Linked DNA regions of Homo sapiens. The protein of the gene in region 3 purifies or fractionates together with the protein of the main gene of each other region. This does not show direct contact. Each region holds a gene or a part of one and is shown on either strand. Other genes may lie near its edges.

What was found. Proteins that work in one complex are often made in the same cells at the same time.
Region 1: the proteins of SLC39A8 (region 3) and SGPP1 purify together in Homo sapiens (affinity purification with mass spectrometry; 2 studies listed by BioGRID and IntAct, with this or other methods). This does not show direct contact.
Region 2: the proteins of SLC39A8 (region 3) and FAR2 purify together in Homo sapiens (affinity purification with mass spectrometry; one large-scale study listed by BioGRID and IntAct). This does not show direct contact.
Region 4: the proteins of SLC39A8 (region 3) and LTAP1 purify together in Homo sapiens (affinity purification with mass spectrometry; 3 studies listed by BioGRID and IntAct, with this or other methods). This does not show direct contact.

Annotation. Positions count from the first base shown.
Region 1 is NC_000014.9:63,696,438-63,701,426, forward strand, and holds part of SGPP1 (sphingosine-1-phosphate phosphatase 1), read right to left. Parts: intron 4,275-4,989; exon of another isoform or gene 2,360-4,274; intron 2,222-2,359; coding exon 2,132-2,221; intron 1-2,131.
Region 2 is NC_000012.12:29,305,417-29,310,405, reverse strand, and holds part of FAR2 (fatty acyl-CoA reductase 2), read right to left. Parts: intron 2,749-4,989; coding exon 2,571-2,748; intron 2,557-2,570; exon of another isoform or gene 2,362-2,556; intron 1,221-2,361; coding exon 1,176-1,220; intron 636-1,175; exon of another isoform or gene 503-635; intron 1-502. UniProt on the Homo sapiens protein: Catalyzes the reduction of saturated but not unsaturated C16 or C18 fatty acyl-CoA to fatty alcohols (FAls). A lower activity can be observed with shorter fatty acyl-CoA substrates.
Region 3 is NC_000004.12:102,303,197-102,308,185, forward strand, and holds part of SLC39A8 (metal cation symporter ZIP8 isoform a precursor), read right to left. Parts: intron 4,410-4,989; coding exon 4,240-4,409; intron 2,806-4,239; exon of another isoform or gene 2,000-2,805; intron 1,916-1,999; coding exon 1,793-1,915; intron 1,286-1,792; coding exon 1,121-1,285; intron 1-1,120. UniProt on the Homo sapiens protein: Electroneutral divalent metal cation:bicarbonate symporter of the plasma membrane mediating the cellular uptake of zinc and manganese, two divalent metal cations important for development, tissue homeostasis and immunity.
Region 4 is NC_000001.11:154,209,963-154,214,951, forward strand, and holds part of LTAP1 (protein C1orf43), read right to left. Parts: intron 4,613-4,989; coding exon 4,495-4,612; intron 3,985-4,494; coding exon 3,931-3,984; intron 2,663-3,930; coding exon 2,496-2,662; intron 2,417-2,495; coding exon 2,358-2,416; coding exon of another isoform or gene 2,354-2,357; exon of another isoform or gene 1,499-2,353; intron 1-1,498. UniProt on the Homo sapiens protein: General regulator of phagocytosis. Required to uptake Gram negative bacterium by macrophages.

The DNA.
Region 1 (4,989 bases), on a different chromosome or scaffold from region 3:
GATGCATAACCATTTGGTAGTTTTTTCAGAAGTAGTGATGCTAACTTTTAGGGGTGGAACAGAATAACTCTAAAAAGACACAGAAGATAGAAAACATTTTCTTGTAACAAGTATTTGATTTTGCATAAAAATATGATACTTAATCTGATTACAAAATTAGGAGAGATTAGTCAGAAAGAAGTGTATGTAAATTCACAATTCATATTAAATACAAATAATTATAAAAAGTCAAACACAAATAATTTGTTTATTAAAATAGTGTTTAGGGCTGGGCGCAGTGGCTCACATCTGTAATCCCAGCACTTTGGGAGGCCAAGGCAGGTGGATTACCTGAGGTCAGGAGTCTGAGACCAGCCTGGCCAACATGGTGAAACCCTGTCTCTACTAAAAATACAAAAATTAGCCGGGTGTGATGGTACATGTCTGTAATCCCAGCTACTCAGGAGGTTGAGGCACAAGAATTGCTTGAACCTGGGAGGCAGAAGCTGCAGTGAGCCGAGATTGTGCCACTGCCCTCCAGCTTGGACAACAGAGCAAGACTCTGTCTCAAAAAGAAAAAAAAGTGTTTGGTAGGGACTTCAAAAGGAGAGAGGGAGAGCGGGGGGAGGAAAGGGCTGCAAAACTTCCTGTTGGGTACTATGTTCACCATCTGGGTCACAGGATCAATAGACGTCCAAATCTTGGCATCACACAATATACCTTTGCAAACAAATCTGCTTATGTACCCCTTGAATCTAAAATTAAAATTTAAAAAAACCTAGAAACAATGACCAACCCCAAAATTACAGCACACACTGCCTCCCAACAAAATAAAATAGTGTTTGGGACTTCTGGAAATTTATCTGTGAAGGAGCAGGTGCTGGAAGCAAGAAATTTGAGATAGAAACCAACATTTCTATAACTAAGAAATAAGAGAATGAAATAATATGAGAAAAAAAATTCTAAAAATGGTAACATGTTAAGGACAAGAAAAAAACTGACATGACCCATTAGAAACTAGAATTCCATGAATTCTTCCACCTTTTTTTGTGATCCTTTATCTCCATGATAATACATAATTCATTCATAGATGCCTCATGAGACACCATGTTGGATACTAAAGGTAGAGTTAAAACACACAGTTGCTGTTCTCAAGGAACTTGGAGTCTAGTATACTTGACAGATAAGGAAAAAAGCAATTGCAATTTAGGATAAGTGGGGAAGGGTCACCTCACAAGTCTTGAGAAAGAGAAGATGGGGAAGGTAATAAGGCTTTGAGGGGTTAAGAATATCTATAGTGAGTCTTGAAGAATGAATGGGATAGTTAAGGTAAAGAAAGTGAAAGGGGCATTCCAAGTAAATGTTACAGCATTTGTAAAGTTATGGAGGTAAGAAACCCTTTGCATTGGAGGAAACCTAATAATTCAGTATAGCATCGTATTTGTGTTTTGGAAAGTCTACGAAACAGCTGAATGCTAGTGGAGCAGTGTCAAACTGGAAGTTGGCTACTAATTAAGATGCTATCACAGTAATCTGGTCAAGATATGTTGCAGGCCAGAGCTAAGGGGGTGTCAATAGGGATAGCGAGGAGGGAAAGTGAATGGGTGTGGCTGCAAATAGTACAGGGTCCCTGTGCTGCTGCTTTGGGAACCGAATTGCATTCTCAAAACACAATGTCCACTGTGAGTCCTAACATACTGATGGGAAAGAAAAGAAAAGTAGAGTTTAATATGTAAACACAAATGGCCCCTGGAAAGTTTAAGTTCACATAGTTTCTAGTCACTAGTTCTTCAACAATACTTAGGAGCTCTCCTTGGTTTCTGTAGCCACATTGCTGGTTTTGACTCAGTGATAAGAGAGACACAGAAAAGACTGCAAAGGAAAATAAAAGGGAGACTGGAAGGAGGAAGAAATGTTATCTTGATTATAATACCTGGCTATTGTGATTGCTGGAAACTGTTTCTATGAAATATGTGACTACTACATTAATATTTCATAAACCATCATGTTGATATTTTCGCAAAACAAAGTTAGACGACTTACAATATTTTCTCATTTAGGCTTCAGGTAAGTTTGCAAATGATTAAAAATTATAAAATTTCCTGTCAATGTCATAAAAAATAAAGTATTAAGAAGACAACATTTTCCTTACCAGAATAGAGTGCATTCCCATGTAAATTCTACTTAGGCAAACTAGAGAACACCAGCAGGGAATAAGAATCAGTCCATATATAAGAGGGTACTAAAGGGGAAAAAAAGTAAAATTAGTTAAACAAATTTAAGTTAGATATAAACAAACAAATAAAAGACAAATCAAATCACTATTCTATAAAGTCCACTAAAACAAGAAATTTGTTTTTACTCCCCATTGTATTTCCAGCACCTAACCCTGAGTATGGCACATGGCAGACATTCAAGAAATACTTTTCCACAAATGAACAAATGAATGAAATCTCATGTGTCTAAATTCTTTATTGTGGGAACTGGCTCACTTCTGCTTCTACAATGAAGATTCAATCACTGGCATGGTATAGGAGGAGGAGGACAGGTAAGAGACATACTTTTAATATGGCCACCAAAATGAAAGGGCCTCTGGAATAGTACCTGAATCTGGTCCATGTAAATGTCTTCAGTTGTCTGGGGAGGAGGATTGGCATTATCTCCCTCTCACTTCATCAGTGACTGCTATCTCCAATTTATATTGCTATTCCCCTACCTTGCATTCAGTATTCAACACTTTGTACTTAGTTTTTCACTTCCACCCCATTGACTAAAATTTCAAATGGTCCCCTTACTGAGAAAAATTTCCGTGGAATACTAGGAGCACAAATCATAAAAGGGAAAAAGCATAAACAGAAAGTGCAGACAATTCTTGGTATCAATGGCACTAGTGGAAAAGTTGGCTGTGAATGTCCTGAGATTGGAGGGAAAGAGGAAAGGATGGATGGGCATGGTGGTAAGTTTGTAAAGGGAAGAAGGGAGGGCACATTTGGGGCTGTTTATGCCTGATGACTTCAAATTTCTCAATGAAATTGAAGCCAATGTGGTTAGGGAAGTTGGGTTGAAATAAAGGAGCAAGGGACTTAAGTAAGCTTGTAAGAAGAGTAGAAAATATTTAGTACGAAATTGTTGGTTTTTGGTGGTTTGTTTTGTTCTGTTTTTTTAGAAAGACAGGGTCTCACTATGTTGCTCAGGCTGAAGTACTGAGGCTATTCCCAGGTGTGATAATAGCATACTAACACCTTGAACTCCTGGGCCCAAGTGATCCTCCTGCCTTAGCCTCCTGAGTAGCTGGAACTACAGGCAGAGTTGTTTTTTTTTTTGGTTGTTGTTGTTTTTTTTACATATCTACTACATTTAACATGGTCCCTCACTTTCTCCTTGAAACTCTAAATACCCTCGATAGTCATAGCTTCATACTCTCCTGGTTCACCTTTCACCATTTATTTTTTGCTGCATTTCCCACACAAGAGCGTATCTTCCTCTTTTTGTTCTTTAAACATTAGTATACAGAAGGATTCTGTCCTTAGTAGTTACTGACAGTCTTACCTTTTCCTTTTTTTTGAGACAGGGTCTTACTCTGTCACCAAGGCTGATGTGCGGCAGCATAATCATGGCTCACTGCAGTCTCAACCTCCCAGGCTCAAGCAATCCTCCTGCCTCAGCCTCCCGAGCAGCTAGGACTACAGATGGGTATCTCAAACTCCTGAGTTCAAGCGATCCACACACCTTGGCCTCGCAAAGTGCTAAGATTACAGGTGCAGTGAGCCAATGCACCTGGCCCCCTTTCTTATTTTTTTAACTACTTCTAGACTAGGCATGCTGAAGACCTACCCATTTCCCCGGGTTTAAGAACCATATATCCAACTCTGCACATATTTCCACCTTGAGGTCCCTATGGCAGTAAACCCACTATACCTCAAACCAAACTCATCATCATATCACCCACACTTGTTCCTCCTCTGATATTCCCTATTTCATTTGGAAACACCAAAAACCAAGTAATCCAAATGAGAAACATGAATTATCCTTAATTCTTTCCTTAGCCGTTGTATTCAACAAATAATCAAGTTTTACTAATTTTATATTCTAAATATTCCTTGGGAGAATAATTATATTCTTTTCTGGGAGTATAAGTTCCTATTCTTGCTGGAGGAGGCATTAAACAGTAAACACAAAAGCATGCAAATGATATGATATGTAAATATGTATAAGTTATATAAAATATATAAATCATATAATAAAACCTGATAGGTAACATGGAGAAAATAAAAAGAGAACATGTGTTGAAGAAATAGTAATGCTCATTAATATTCCTTGTGCTCCTCCTACATTTTGGATTCACTTACATTAGGGTCATGCAACTAATTTTGGCCAGTGAGCTGGGGAAAAAAGTGACTTATGCCACTTTCAATCTTCCTTTGAACTCTCTCTTTCCTATAGATGTGACCCTGGGAAACTACATGTTGAGATGCATCACGAGACGGGCAAGCTTCCATCAGCCTAGGTCCTTGAGGGTCAAAGTGGACAAAGCTGTTTGCTAACGCATAATGGATTTGTAACACAAGATTTTTTTTTTTTTGAGATAGGGTCTCGCTCTGTTGCCCAGGCTGGAGTGCAGTGGCATGATCTCGGCTCACTGCAACCTCCACCTCTCAGACTCAAGCGACCCTCCTACCTCAGCCTCCAGAGTAGCTGGGACTAGAGGTGTGCCACCACATCCAGCTGATTTTTTAAAAAATATTTTGCAGAGACAGGGTCTCGCCATGTTGCCCATGACTGGTCTTAAATTCCCGGGCTCAAGCAATTCACCCGCCTTGGCCTCCCACAGTACTGAGATGAGAGGCATGAGCCACCACTCCTGGCCAAGATACAAGATTTTGTTATGTGTTAAGTCATTGCAATTTTGGGATTAAGTCATTGCCACAGTATCAACAAGTCTAACTTAATTAAAACAGATATAAAAATAGGGTCATGAGTTTCAGAGTGTAAATGGGGCAGGTTACAGTA
Region 2 (4,989 bases), on a different chromosome or scaffold from region 3:
ATTCATGTTAATAATTGGTTGAGTTTATGAAATTGATTCTTTGTGCTTTGCATGTTTCCAACATTGATTTGCAACGATTAGCACTTTCTTATGTTACTCAGTTCTGTTTTCTTATAACTAGCTCCCCTTCTTTTGGACATAAGAAACCAATTTAGAACATTTTAGAAAATGTAAATAAATATGTAGCTTTGCATGTAATGAAAGCCGTTTTGGGATCACGTTAAAATAATGATGTTCTAAGTCACTAAACGTTCACCCCAACTGAACTTTTGTAGAAGAAAGAGTTGAAGGCAGGTGGGAAGCAGAAAGAAAGGGGCTGCTAGAAAAATCAGAAATCGGAAGGAAGATCTTTGTCACTGTTATAATTCACTGTCTCATATCTGTATTGCAATTCATGTTGAACCTAGTTCTGGGAGGAACAGAGTCAGAGTCTGAATCGCAGTCTAAATCCCTAATAAAATTTAAACTCATTTAGATCACTGATTTCCTATTCATTGTACAGAAGAATGAAGTGGGGTTTAGACCCTAAATGCTTCAGTGTGAGCTGTGAAGCCCCACAGCTTGGCTGGATCAATCTGGACTTCGGGCAGATGCGCACTAAGGGCTGCTTACCTAGAGGAGCCACGTTTCTCCTGGTAAGATATTATTGAAAAGATGTTGCCTATATTCATGGATTTTTGTATTTGAAAAATTTGCTCCAATTGGTAGTTCTCTTTCTTGTATTCATTAAAAATTATTGATGTATATCTCTTTTCTACACACGCACATAAACTCTTACATGTGTTTTATAATCAAGAATTTAATAATCTTTGAAGATATTTTTACTGCATCCTCAATTCACTGCACTAATTCATGAGATTATAAACTGCAAAAAGGAGGAAATACCCCCATCTTGTGGTAACTAAAGAAAAGTCCTTGATGCTCAAAGACTTCAAAAATAAAACTCCTAAATAGTAACTGATAGCACATTACCTCTGTTTTTCTGATAAAAAATTCTCAAAGAATAATTTCATCCTGCCTGTATATTACAATCAGAACAATTAAAATAATATGCCTCAGTTATTAGTAAAGTAACATTTATGTTTTTGGATCAATGAAGCTAAGCCAGCACTAAGAATTTTGTTACTATTTCTCTACTACATTTCAGGGAGTTATTTCTTCATCATTATACATACCGCAATAATGATTCCATTAGGTCCATTTATATTATCAACCCAACCCTAAAAGAAAGAAGATTTCTATTGGTTACACATTTCAGAAAATTGTTTTATCTTTGGAACATCTGCAGTCTAATCTTAATAAATTTCAAACAAGAGCACTGAGATCCCAGCCAATAGAACTATCTAATTCAGTATTATTAAGATCTCAAAAGATAATGGCAAAGCATTGGCCATTTTCTGTACTTTATTTGACTGTGCAAAAATTAGAATTTTGCCAGGATTGTTTTTCTTAGCAGGAATCATGAATGGTTTTGTGGTGTTTTATGACCTCTTATGGACTAAATTGGACCTTGTCCTTATATCATGATCTGCTAAGCAATTCACCAACCATACTTCTCCACCTTAGTCCTGATTTCAGCCTCCTTAGGAGAACATTGAAAACATGATTTGTGTTAATGGCCCATTTCTTAACATTTTTTACCAGCTATAGAGTCCATGCCAGATATATATACATATATATATATATGTGTGTGTGTGTGTGTGTGTGTGTGTGTGTCTGTGTGTCTGTGTGTATATTGACTTACTTAAAGATGTTACAGAGATTATATTTAAGAGCAGCTAGAGGGAAATGTGTTTTTAAGTTTGTTTCTTAAGACCTAAGCCATTCAGCTGACCTTATTATGTCTCTTTACGTTACAGTATAAAAGTCAAATGTGTGAGTATAACAGGAGAGGAGAGAGAAGAGAGGAGAAGATGAAGGGATTAATATTTGTTGAGCCTTTTAGTAGGGACCACTCCTCATACATTGTCTCATCAAATCAACTCTCCATAGTATCTGTCCTGTTTTATGGAAGGGACAACTCAAAAATGTTGCATTACCAGTAAGTAGTGGAGCTGGAATTTATCTACCCCAAAGCTTCACAGACTTGCTTTCAAGAAGATGGTATAATTCAAAGTACTTTCAAAAGGTCATGACAGTATACTGAGGTTTAAAAAAAATTAGTATTCCTAAACTGAGATCCTTCTGTGAGCTTTGAAACTCTTGTTTACCCTGGCAGTTGTAATACTACCAATTTGGCCATCAAGGACATTCTGGTATGCTTAAACTATAGTAGGAAAGCCAAGATATGAAACCATCACCCATGTGAATTTTGAGACTAGAGTAGTTAGAAGCTAATTTAAGCTCTCCGTCCAACTCTAGGGCAGTCAAGATAACTGCCAGAGGAGCCACATGCTGGGTAAATCCTGAACCCAAAGTGGAATTTTGCCCTAGTATAATGGGTTCATATTCGATTGGCTGCACTTAGCTATAAATCCTGAGGAGGAGAAGAAGAAAGACATCAGAAAGTAATTGGACTAGAAGAACCTTAGTTTGGAAGCAAAACACAGAATCCAGGTAAGTGGGCTTACTGGGAAAGGCTCCTGCCAAGTTGCTCCCACAATGGAGGGCCTTATGATGGCAATGTTCAGGTTCCTGCTCTCTTGCTGCACCACCATTTCTCCCAAGGCCTTGGTGTAGGTATAAATATTGGGCCAATCTCTGATCAGCTTGGGTGTAATCTCGTCAATAATAGCATCGTCTAACCACCTAAAAGGTAGAGTAAAGAGAATTCTAGTAACATATGTTAGACAATAAACCAAAAGGAAAATGTGAGACACAATCAAACAAAACTTCCACCTTTTAGCCTCGGTTCTGGAATTCAGAACAGTCACATGATACCAAGTTTGAGTGTGTACCTGCTCAAAGCATGCATGAGCTTTTTGCTCTTCACTGCTAAGCCCAATCTTATCCTATGCCCTCCCATCCAAACAGATAGGTAGGTAGGTAGGTAGGTAGGCAGGCAGGTAGGTAGATAGACCGATAGAATCAATAGCAATACTACTTTATTACGAATGATAGCATAGGACTATTAGTACTACTTTATTAGTATTACTTTAGCACTACTGCTACTTTATCAGTACTGATTACTACTTTATTGTAGTAGTACTAAATTAGAACTTTAGTACTATATTAGAGATTATTATTACTTTACTTCCTCTCTAGCAAGCTCATAAGTACACTCATTGAACACATATTTGAGTCCCAGTCATTCTCCCAGTAGTGTGCTGCATGCTGTGTTCAGGGAGTTAGAGGCTGTCATCCAAGGTGCTTCAGTGGCAGCCCTACTCAGTGTTGTCCGATAAAAATCCAGTGCAGTAATCCTGAAGCCTTTAGCTTTAAATTTTAAAAATTCCACTCAATGCAAATCAAATCAAAGTGACTACTTTTGGCACTTACAGTCTGTTTTAGCAAACCTATGTAATGCATTTTGAAGGTCTGTTTAGAGTCTATGCTAATAACTTGAAAATTATCTCCAGAGATTTCCAGTGAATTCTGAAGTCTGTCAAGTGGGGTGATTATAGTGCTCTGAAATAGCTTCAAAATCACGATTATTGACTACTCCTACTTACAAGATAATGTATCATGAATAACCAAGTTACCATAGCATCAGCCTAATCTTTCTTAAAAATATGTCAGAACCACTTGATAACCCCAAAGTCTATCTACACCTCTCTAAGAAAGCAACAAAAGTATTGTCAATTATATATTTAACATTCTTCTAGCTGACAGATCTATGTGGTTAAATCATTGATATAACATAGCTTTTTAAAAATTAAGCTGCCGAAATATGCTAGTGTGATTTTTCTAATCAATGTGGTATATTTATTTCTATTTTATAGAACAGAACAGAACTATACTATTTTGATTGTAGAAAATCTTCACTGTTACCACTTTGCTGACATGACAAATTTTTGAGCAGCTAAGATGTGCATGATGTTAAGACTTATTCAGAATCACAACTTTCAATTTTAATGCCTCATTTGATCCTGAGGTAGAACATGGGCATCGACTATAATGTTTCCACTTTTCTTGCTTTGCTTCTATTAGTGCTGAGTGTGTTCTGGATACTCAAATGTCTTTTTATTTGAATTGAATAGAGAAAGATTGAGGGGTTCTAGAATTAAAAACAACTTCAACTACATAGAAATATCTAGGATATTTTAATTATATGGTCACCTGGGGGCTGGGAAAGAATATAGGATGATGCAGACACCTCTCCATCTTAACAGTCCTACCACTATCTCATTTCATTTGGTGGGTCAACAGTGGATTGACTGACCTGAGACCATTTTCTCTCACCTGCAAAAATATATAGTTTATGAAAACCAGGTCTTGAGGGAATAAAGCTTAATTTCAATAAAGCTGTAAAAAAAAAAAAACCTAGGAAACATCAGAGCCCAATAATGTGCAGGGATTGTATGTCACATGGCTAGTACCAGTTGCTGTCATTAATGTTGGGGTACATGGAAAGGATAATATTTGGGGGGATAGGGGCCTTATAAAGCTTGGTGAGTTTGCTTGTCTTAGAAAATTTTGGTTTCGTAGATTTCTGACAGCACGCATGCAAGAAATTTTAATATTCTATAGATGACTTGCCTCTGCTACTCTCAGCTACACCTGTATTCCACTGTTTTATCTTTTCATTCCAATTGTACTTGTGAAAATGGCAATAATTATACTGATTCTAAATTCTCATAAGAGTAAACAGGAATATAAATTACCTAGTTCCAATTGTACTTGTGAAAATGGCAATAATTATACTCATTCTAAATTATCATAAGGGTAAACAGGAATATTCACAACTGCATTTAAGCTCTTTGATAAAACAAAATGAGCCAATAAACCTAAGGCATTGTTATTTTTTAATAAAACAACCAGTGAGCATGCATCTTTGTAGGTAATAGTTAGTTTTAAAGTGTCATTTCTGGCCAAGTGCGGTGACTCAAA
Region 3 (4,989 bases):
TAAACCTGGAGGGGTTATTTAACATCTAAAGTTCCACTTTCTTCATCTGTCAAATGAGAATTGTTGTAGACACCAGTGATACTATCTTTTCAGCATCCCTTTTTGATAACCACTCCTCTACTCCATCCACATTCCCTTGATACCATTAAAGGGGCCCAGCCCTCTAAGCACTTAGATTAGTCTAGAAGTGATCATCTAATTCAAGCTGAACCAGGAAGACACTTGCCAGAGATTTTGGATTTAGGACTGAAAGAGTCAGGTCAATTTCCTTCTAGTAGCTGAAATTATAAGACAAACCTCAGGAACTGCTAGTGGCTATGTATCCCACTTATGGAAAAGATAGCCTACAGTGAAAGAAAAGAATGATACTAAGAGACAGGAAAGAGAAGGAGGGAGAGTCCTAGGGGTTCTAATGTTTCCTAGGTTCTTGTTTTTCCTGTAGCTTGGCTGTTCTATTAGTCATCTAGTATCTTTCCAGTAAGTTGTCCTTTGTGCATATATAATTTTGTTTGATTTCTATCACTTGAAACCAATATAGTTCTAATACATAAGAAATAATCCCTACACTGAGTAGTTGTTATAAAAAGTAAATGAGATCAAATAATTAAGTGCTAAGCATATTACCTGGTATATGATACGTGCTCAAGAAATTGTGCCTATTAATATTATTTAGAAGATGTGGATATAAATATAAATTATAAGTCAGACAATTAATAAAAACAATTTTAATAATTTGCAAATCTTCTTGCAATTTCAAAATCAATCAAAGGATTATTTGATTCTGGATCTTCAAAGAATTGTAAAATAAATGCTCTGAATAAATTTTGCTATATAATATTGTATAAATGCAATTGAGAGACTCTCATATAGTAAATAATCTTAGAGAATAATGAAGTCCAGAACAGTGATCCACAATTTCTTTCTTAACTCACTTGTTTAGAGTAAACATATACAGGGAAGGTGGAAAAACAATGCAGACTTACATTCCAGTTACCCCACATATATAGGAATAAGTCTGACATACATAAATGTACAAAAACTGACTTAGCTGCATAAACAGTCATGTTTACACAGTATAAAGAATGCAGTATAATGAAGGAAAAATGGAATTAACATATACCTGTAGAGATACCACACTGACATTATCAAAATGGATATGTCCATTAGCTTCTGTGACAGCAGGATTTGCATAGCATGTCACACCATTGATGGCAGGTAATGCTTTAGGTTGATGAGTTTTTTCTTGAGGACCAAAGTTATCATTTCCAAAGTGGGTATGACCATTCTATATGGGAACAAAAACCAAAGAGATTATAAGAAGAAAAAAGATGATTCATACAGACAAGGAAATAGAGTTTACTGCTTTTTATTTATAAGAGGAAAATTGTATGTCTATTCTATGTGTAAAGAAGTATTTTTAGATATATAAAATTTCTCTTTTTTACATGTATTTTCATTTATTAGATTCTGCTGTTACTGTTTGTTCGTGTTAGAACACGTATACACTCTTATTTTGATGAATATGAATAGAATATGAATTATGCACATCTGTTATTCAATATTAAATTGCTGATACTTGAAAAAAAACAAAAATAACCTCCAAATTTTACAACATGAATCAAGTATTTATCTTATACTTGTCAATATATTGACTCTTTGTTCTCCTTAAACTCACAAGCCTAATAACTGGACCATTCTCATAATTCTAAAAATAAAATTTCTGTCTTTATTTGCCTATATAAAGTAGCTTTAGGGGGTAAAATATTGGATGTTTTAAATAAAGTCCATTTACCTGACCATATGTCTTTAATAACATCTTTAGCATTCTTTCAAAAAAGAAAAGTAGGTAAAATCCACCAAACACAGCAACTGCCTTCTCAACATAACTGTCGACTTTGGGATCAAATCCAAATGCCTAAGGGAGAAAAAAGGGCAATTCAAGTAAAACCAAGAAATTTAACTTGATTTCTGGAAAATAATACCAGTATGCAATTCTCACCAATGTTCTAAGTCTCTCTTCACATCCAAGTAATATTGGAAACTTAGCTGCCAAAAATCACAAAACAAAAACTTTGAAATTTGAATGACAAAACTGTATGAGATGGCACAAAAACCTTACAACTAGAAGTCTCATTAAATAAAGCCACCAGAGAATCTTACAGTTTCCCACCTATAACACCTACAGCAATATTTGCCTTGAAAGAGTAAACTTTTAGCAGTAAAGCAGCAGCTCTGATTCTCATCTTTAGAATACGATATTAGGTCTAGATAATGAAGATAAATGAGATATTGATTACCTACTGTCTCTAAAAGTAATATATTAGTCCATGATATCCAGAATCAAACTTTTAAAACAAATATGGCAGGCCACTTGGATTACTGTTTTCCCAAGAGAAATCCTCTTATACCTACAGAACTGTGATAAATCCTAAAAAGGTAAATAAATCAAGGCCTAGGCCCAAGAATAAAAGCAAAAAGAAGATTTAAAATTGCCACCACTCTCTCTCTCTCTTTCACACACACACAGCAATAAGAATGGAATAATTCTTTCTTTAAAGGACAAAGAACTGGAGTTAGAGTTTGAAGTTATAAAGAGTCAAGATGTTCCTAACAGACAAGACACATAAACTTCAAATAAATAGAATCAGAGGAGAGACTAATGGGTGAAAAGCCACAACTTTACACCATTCCACACATTGTAAATCTCCCCTCTGAAGCAGAATAGAAGATGTCTGGGTTCTTGTCCTATGTTTGCCTCTGGGGAGACATCATGGCCGCATCCTCATTTGAATAACTTCTTTGTGCCTGTTTATACAATGCAAAATGGCTATATAAATATAAATGTTCCATTTACCTAACATTGAGGTTATGAAAATAAAGTGAAATAAGAAAAGGAAAATCATTTTGCTACAAAAAACTCTATGAAAATTTGAGAGATTATTACAAAGACAGATTCTTTATATTGTTAAACTTCAAGAAAATAGAAAACCTTAACATCATCAATGTAGAGTCTTTAGTCCACATACAGTATTAGTTTGTTTAATTTACTTTGACCCATAAAGCAGATGAGATAATAAATACATATATTATATCATATTAAATGTATTATGTATATAATACTCTTTTAAATCAGAAAATCTGTATTGTCATCCTAGCTTTGTTACTAGCTGATTGTAAGGCTATAATCAAATTATTTAACCACCCTAAATTTTAATATTTTTTATCTCTACAATTGAGGCTGTGAAATAGATATTATCTTAGGTCCTAGATCAAATAATGATAATAAATCTATAACTCTAAAAAGTTATATACCCACTTTCAATGTATAGCTTGAAAAATTAAAGGAAGCTTTAGTTATAATTTTCTAAAAATTACGAGATAAGGGTGGTACTCCCTGAAATACTATTAATATTTTCTCTCTGTATGGGGTTTGTCTCTCCCTGTGTGTGTGCATTGTGGGTGGCAGATACAGTCCATGTATACATATATTTCTCTAGTTCCCCTTTGTGGATCCCTTCTATGAAAGTCTCTTTCTCCTTTCCTTCCTCTTCAACATTGCCTCTCTTTTCCTTTCATTTATTTCCCTTCCTCCATTTCTCTTCCTTATATGGGCACAACACAGATTTGAAATAAATTGAATAGTGTGCACTATAGTCAAGATAGATCAATAACACATTTTATCAAAGAAAAAAAATAAGTTGCTATTTATTTATTAGTCCTCAATTGATATTTTTTCCACAGTTGGAAAAAATGAAAAGGTTTGTCAACCATGCTCTCATTTACTCTCTAGTCACTTATAACTGTAGTAAATATATGAGGGAATTTAGTGGTATATGTTAAATACATTATAAATTTACATTTGACATTTGCAGTACAGTTGACATTGCATGCTCTTTAGAAAAATAAATAAATAAATAAATAATGAAACAGTGTGTGGAAAAATTAAATTTGCCAAGTGCAAGGCAGAATAAAGTTTTAAGGCCTTCTGAGGTGTCCCAGAGCTGTCTGAGCACGTCCTAGTGGCTGGCCTCCTAGAATATTAATTTTGTCTCTGATAGTGATATCCACTGCAGCTTGGGACAAGCCTTTACAATTGCTGTGATTCAGCTTTCTCTTATCCAAGACACTATAAACTAGACCATAAAACGCTGTAAGAATTATGGAGGCTAAAAACATACAAAGTGCTAAAACGTTCAAAAGAAACAATTATTCACAGAAACAAATAGCCAACATCCTTACCTCTGGAATAAGTTGGAAAATTGCATTTGAAAAAAGAGTCCCAATAGCCAGCCCCACAAAAAAGGTCAAAATCTTTGGGAAATAAGATTTCTTTATCAGTGGAGTCAAAATCAATCCGAGGAGAGATGCCAGATTAATAATCGTCACTGACAGGAATCCATATCCCCAAACTGTGGGTCAGAGGGAAAAGAGAGTAGAAATTAATCAGAGCAAGGAACCAAATGATGTTTTCCTGTACATTAAGCTTAAAAGTGTCTTTAAAAGCTTAAGACACATATCTTCTTTAAAAGAACAAAATCTACTCAATGAAAAGTATATAGAAAACTGAGAATACAAATATGGCATAGCAAGCATTAATAGTAATACTGTTTATGTTTTAATCAGCCCTAAATCATCATTATGGGATTAATGAGTTTTACAGCTTGCAGGGAAATTGGAGAACATCTAGAACAGCGAACAGCGACAAACAATCTGAGATCCACAGGCTCCAAGCCACCTAGTTTCATCTATGGCTCAAGGAATAGATTAAAACAGCATTTTGAAAAAAAAGAAAAAACAGGGGCAGTGTGAGCCTCAGGACAAAGGTATGGGGTGATGGGTGGGAGGGCAGGGATGGAGATGGGTCACAGTGAGCTAGCTTCAAGGTGACCATAGCTGCTAACACTGAGTTTGTCACAATCATTTGTCTTCAGACTCCTGAGGACAGCATCTCCTCAGAGAAGGTGGCACCAGCAGCACCTCAGGTCCCCA
Region 4 (4,989 bases), on a different chromosome or scaffold from region 3:
TAATCCACCCATCTCAGCCTCCCAAAGTGTTGGGATTACAAGTACGAACCACTGCAGCTGGCCTTCTAAGCAGTTTTTACTAGGACCTTTCATCTTTTCGAGACAGACTCTTGCTCTGTCACCCACGCTGGAGTGGCACAATCTCGGCTCACTGCAACCTCTGCTTCCTGGGTTCAAGCAATTCTCCTGCCTCAGCCTCTGGAATAGCTGGGATTACAGGCATGTGCCACCACACCAGGCTAATTTTTATATTTTTAGTAGAGATGAGGTTTTGTCATGTTGGCCAGGCTGGTCTCCAACTCCTGGCCTCAAGTGATCCGCCCACCTTGGCCTCCCAAAGTGCTGGGATTATAGACGTGAGCCACTGCTCCAGGCCTTGGCCCTTTCATCTTTTAAGACAACGTAGCTCATTTTTAGGGACAGAGAGAAGACAGGAGAGACATACCCCTTAAGCTCTTGAAAAAGAGCAATATTCAACATAGCAGAAAACAGATTATTTTTATGGCTGGTAACTAACTGTTTATTATTATTTTGAGATGGAGTCTCGCTCTGTCGCCTAGGCTGGAGTGGAATGGCACGATCTTGGCTCACTGCAACCTCCACCTCCCAGGTTCAAGCGATTCTCCTGCCTCACCTTCCTGAGTGGCTGGCATTACAGGTGCGCACATCATCATGCCCGGCTAATTTTTGTATTTTTGTAGAGATGGGGTTTCACCATGTTGGTTAAGCTGGTCTTGAACTCCTGACCTTAGATGATCCACCTGCCTCGGCCTCCCAGTGTTGGGATTACAGGTGTGAGCCACTGCGCCCGGCCTAAGTTTTTACTCTAGATTGGCTTTCCTTTCTCGCCAAGAACTTTGATTTTAACATTTGCATGAAAATACGAGACTATGTTTAGTGTGTATTAAAAACATTCCCAAACAAAAGCCATGAATCCTCTCCTGTGACACAAATGCTCAACAGCTGACTCTATAGCGATGGCCTTTGTTTCAGACATGGTTACTAATACTTTAAGTGGTAGTAAAAATAGATTTTTTTAATTTTTAATTTTTATTTTTTTTTTGAGACAGTCATGCTCTTGTCACCCCAGCTGAAGTGCAATGGCATGATATCGGCTCATTGCAACCTCCACCTCCCGGGTTCAAGTGATTTCTGCCTCAGCCTCCCGAGTAGCTGGTATTACAGGAGCCCGCCAGCATGCCCAGCTAATTTTTGTATTTTCAGTAAAGACGAGGTTTCACCATGTTGGCCAGGCTGGTCTTGAACTCCTGACCTTGTGATCCACCCTCCTCGGCCTCCCAAAGTGCTGGGATTATAGGCGTGAGCCACCGCGCCCGGCCAAAAATAGATGTTATTTAATTCTTTTTTTTTTTTTTTTTTTTTTTTTTTTTTTGAGATGGAGTCTTGCTCTGTCACCAGGCTGGAGTGCAGTGGCGTGATCTCAGCTCACTGCAACCTCTGCCTCCTGGGGTCAAGCGATTCTCCTGCCTCAGCCACCCGAGTAGCTGAGATTACAGGCACGCACCACCATGCCCAGCTAATTTTTGTATTTTTAGTAGAGACAGGGTTTCACCTTGTTGGCTAGGATGGTCTTGATCTCTTGACCTCATGATTCGCCTGCCTCGGCCTCCCAAAGTGCTGGGATTACAGGCGTGAGCCACCGCGCCCGGCCCAATGTTATTTAATTCTTACTTTTATTGGGCCAAGACACAAAAGGGACGCTGAGACTCTGAAGAGAAGGAATCCCTGTGTGTGCTGAAAAACTATTCCCTTTGCTAGGCTACACCAATTTTGACATTTTATTGGGCTAAACAAAAGACAAGAAAAATGCACACAAGAAAAATGCTAGTAAAAACTTCTTTTACTAGCTTGTATAGTTGCATCTGCTTTCTTTTCTTCTTTTTTTTTTTTGAGACAGAGTTTCACTTTTGTTGCCCAGGCTGGAGTATAATGGCACGATCTTGGCTCACCGCAACCTCCGCCTCCCGGGTTCAAGAGATTCTCCTGCCTCAGCCTCCCCAGAAGCTAGGATTACAGGCATGCGCCACCACGCCCGGCTAATTTTGTATTTTTAGTAGAGAACGGGGTTTCTCCATGTTGGTCAGGCTGGTCTCGGATTCCCAACCTCAGATGATCCTCCCGCCTCGGCCTCCCAAAGTGCTGGGATTATAGGCGTGAACCACTGTGCCCGGCCGCATCTGCTTTCTAATGTAAGAGACTGATCTAATAGTCTAGAACCTGACAACTCTTATGGTATCATGGATTTTGTTTATATGCTTTATGAAGGTCACTGCACTGTGGCAACAGTCCAACACTACTGTACCAGCTCCCTCTGACACGTTCCCCTCCAAACTCACGCAGTGGCCAGCTCACTCAGGGCCTCCTGATAGCGTAGGTACTCATTCTGGCCAAAGACCTTAGGAAAGAGAAAGGAAGAGTGAGGATCTCTCAGTCTGAGGGATCTCTTTAGTGCCCCGAAGAAAAAACTGGCTTACCCCTGTCCCATAGCGGGCTGTTTCATAGCCATCCAAAAGGGTATCAATGAGTGCTTTGCGTACACCCTTGAAAGGCGTACTAGTGTTTCGCAGATCCAGCAGGTAGGAGCGGAAATTCTTGCCCATTAAGGAACGGGGATGCCGGCCTTCAGAATGAAATGGGATCTCTGTGGAGAAAACAGCACAATGATATCTCTTCTCATTCTTTAGTCTTTTTTTTTGAGATGGAGTCTCGCTCTGTCACCCGGGCTGGAGTGCAGTGGCAGTGATCTTGGCTCACTGCAACCTCCACCTCCTAGGTTTGAGCAATTCTCTAGTCTCAGCCTCCTGATTAGCTGGGATTACAGATGTGCACCACCATGCCAGGCTTATTTTTGTATTTTTAGTAGAGACAAAAATACAAAAGGGTTTCACCTTGTTGGCTAGGTTGGTCTTGAACTCCTGGCCTCCTGTGATCTGTCTGCCTCGCCCTCCCAAAGCGTTGGGATTACAGGCATGAGCCACTGCGCCTGCCCCATTCTTTAGTCTTTCTAGTTAATTCCCCAAACTTAGAAGTAGGTCTAATGAAGCTGGGCGCAGTGGCTCACGCCTGTAATTACAGCAATTTGGGAGGCCGGGGCAGGCAGATCACCTGAGGTCAGGAGTTTGAGACCAGCCTGGCCAACATGGTGAAAACCTGTCCCTACTAAAAATACAAAAATTAACCAGGCATGGTGGTAGGTACCTGTAATCCCAGCTACTCGGGAGGCTGAGGCAGGAGAACCGCTTGAACCCAGGAGGTGGAGGTTGTGGTGAGCCAAGATCGTGCTACTGCACTCCAGCCTGGGCAACAGAGCAAGACTCCGTCTCAAAAATAAAAAGAAATAGGTCTAATGAAATGAGCAAGTTGAGTTAGAGGGAGATTCTGATTGAGACCAAAGGTATAAAGCTGTGCCTGAGTGGTCATTTGGTGGTAACACCACAGTTGTAAGCTACATCTATGACACATGATAGTGTCATCACACATTTTACCATCCTGCTTACTCATCCATCCTAGGTTTAAGATATAAACTGTTTTCATAGAGATAAAGCATATATGACAAGTGTTGACAGAATGGAAAAAATTCAAGAACAATCTATCTTGGGCTTAGTGAAAAAGCAGGTGCCACCTGTCCTTTGTGGAAAAACAAGCAAATTACTATCATCTACTTCATGAAACTAAAGGTCTCAAGAGAAGAACTTTAAAAAACAAAACACCCAGACTCTTTGGAGAATAACCTGCTTATATCATTTCCTTCAGCAAAATCTCTAATCTAGTACTTTCAAAACTCTAGAATTTCCTACTAGCCAGGGATGTGCAGAAAGGACAAATCCTAACATACAAAGTGGGTTCATTACTCTGTTCCCTAGGTGGGCTTTCAGGATCCTAGAATGGACCCTGTCAGGTAGCCCTTACCAGAGGTACGAATGGCATCCAGAGCTTTCATCCTATACAGATAGTTGTAGCAACCTGTTGAGGAAAAGACTGGTGTTAGGCATAACCCTAAAAATATTCCCCAGGCTGGGCGTGGTGGCTCATGCCTGTAATCCCAACACTTTGGGAGGCTGAGGTGGGTGGATCACCTGAGGTCAGGAGTTTGAGACCAGCCTGACCAACATGGAGAAACCCCGTCTCTAGTAAAAACACAAAATTAGCCAGGCGTGGTGGCGCATGCCTGTAATCCCAGCTACTCAGGAGGCTGAGGTAGAAGAATTGCTTGAACAAGGGGGTGGAGGTTGCAGTGAGCTGAGACTGCACCATTGCACTCCAGCCTGGGCAACAAGAGTGAAACTCCATCTCAAAAAAGAAAAAAAAAATTCCCCAAACTCCAGCAAGCTAATAAATGGGCTCTGCATCTAACATATATCCAATAACAGGAATAACTAAGGCTTTGCCAGCAGCTTTTGACAACTCTGAGAGAAAAGGAATTCTGGACTTGTGGGACTCCTCACTGAAGCATTCCAAGAGCTTGCCACATACTTTGATTTCCCTGGGTTTCCAGTTGTAGTAGTCTAGCATCATCATCTGCAAGGAGCTGGGGCTCATACTTGATATCCTGAACCCTGGAGAGTCGAATATCAATCTCCTCTTTCAAGTCCTGTTCACATAAAAAAAGAATACACAATCATTTACCCTGCACTCTGCTTTCCACCAATGTGAAAATGGGGCAGAGTTAATGAATAACTAAGACAACAGAAATAGAGACCATGCTCATGTAGTTAATAAAATTACCAGATAAGAGGTAAGAATTTAGGAAAGAACGGGATTGGGTTTTCCAATAACCTCTCCAAGCTGCACATCTCTAAGCTAGAACATTTAACTTGTGCCAGAAATCCTTCAAGCTATACAGCACCAACATTATTTCCAATTTTTTTTTTTTTTTTTTGAGACAGAGTCTTGCTCTATCACCCAGGCTGGAGTGCAGTGGCGCAATCTCAGTTCACTGCAACCTCCGCCTCCCAGGTTCAAGCAATT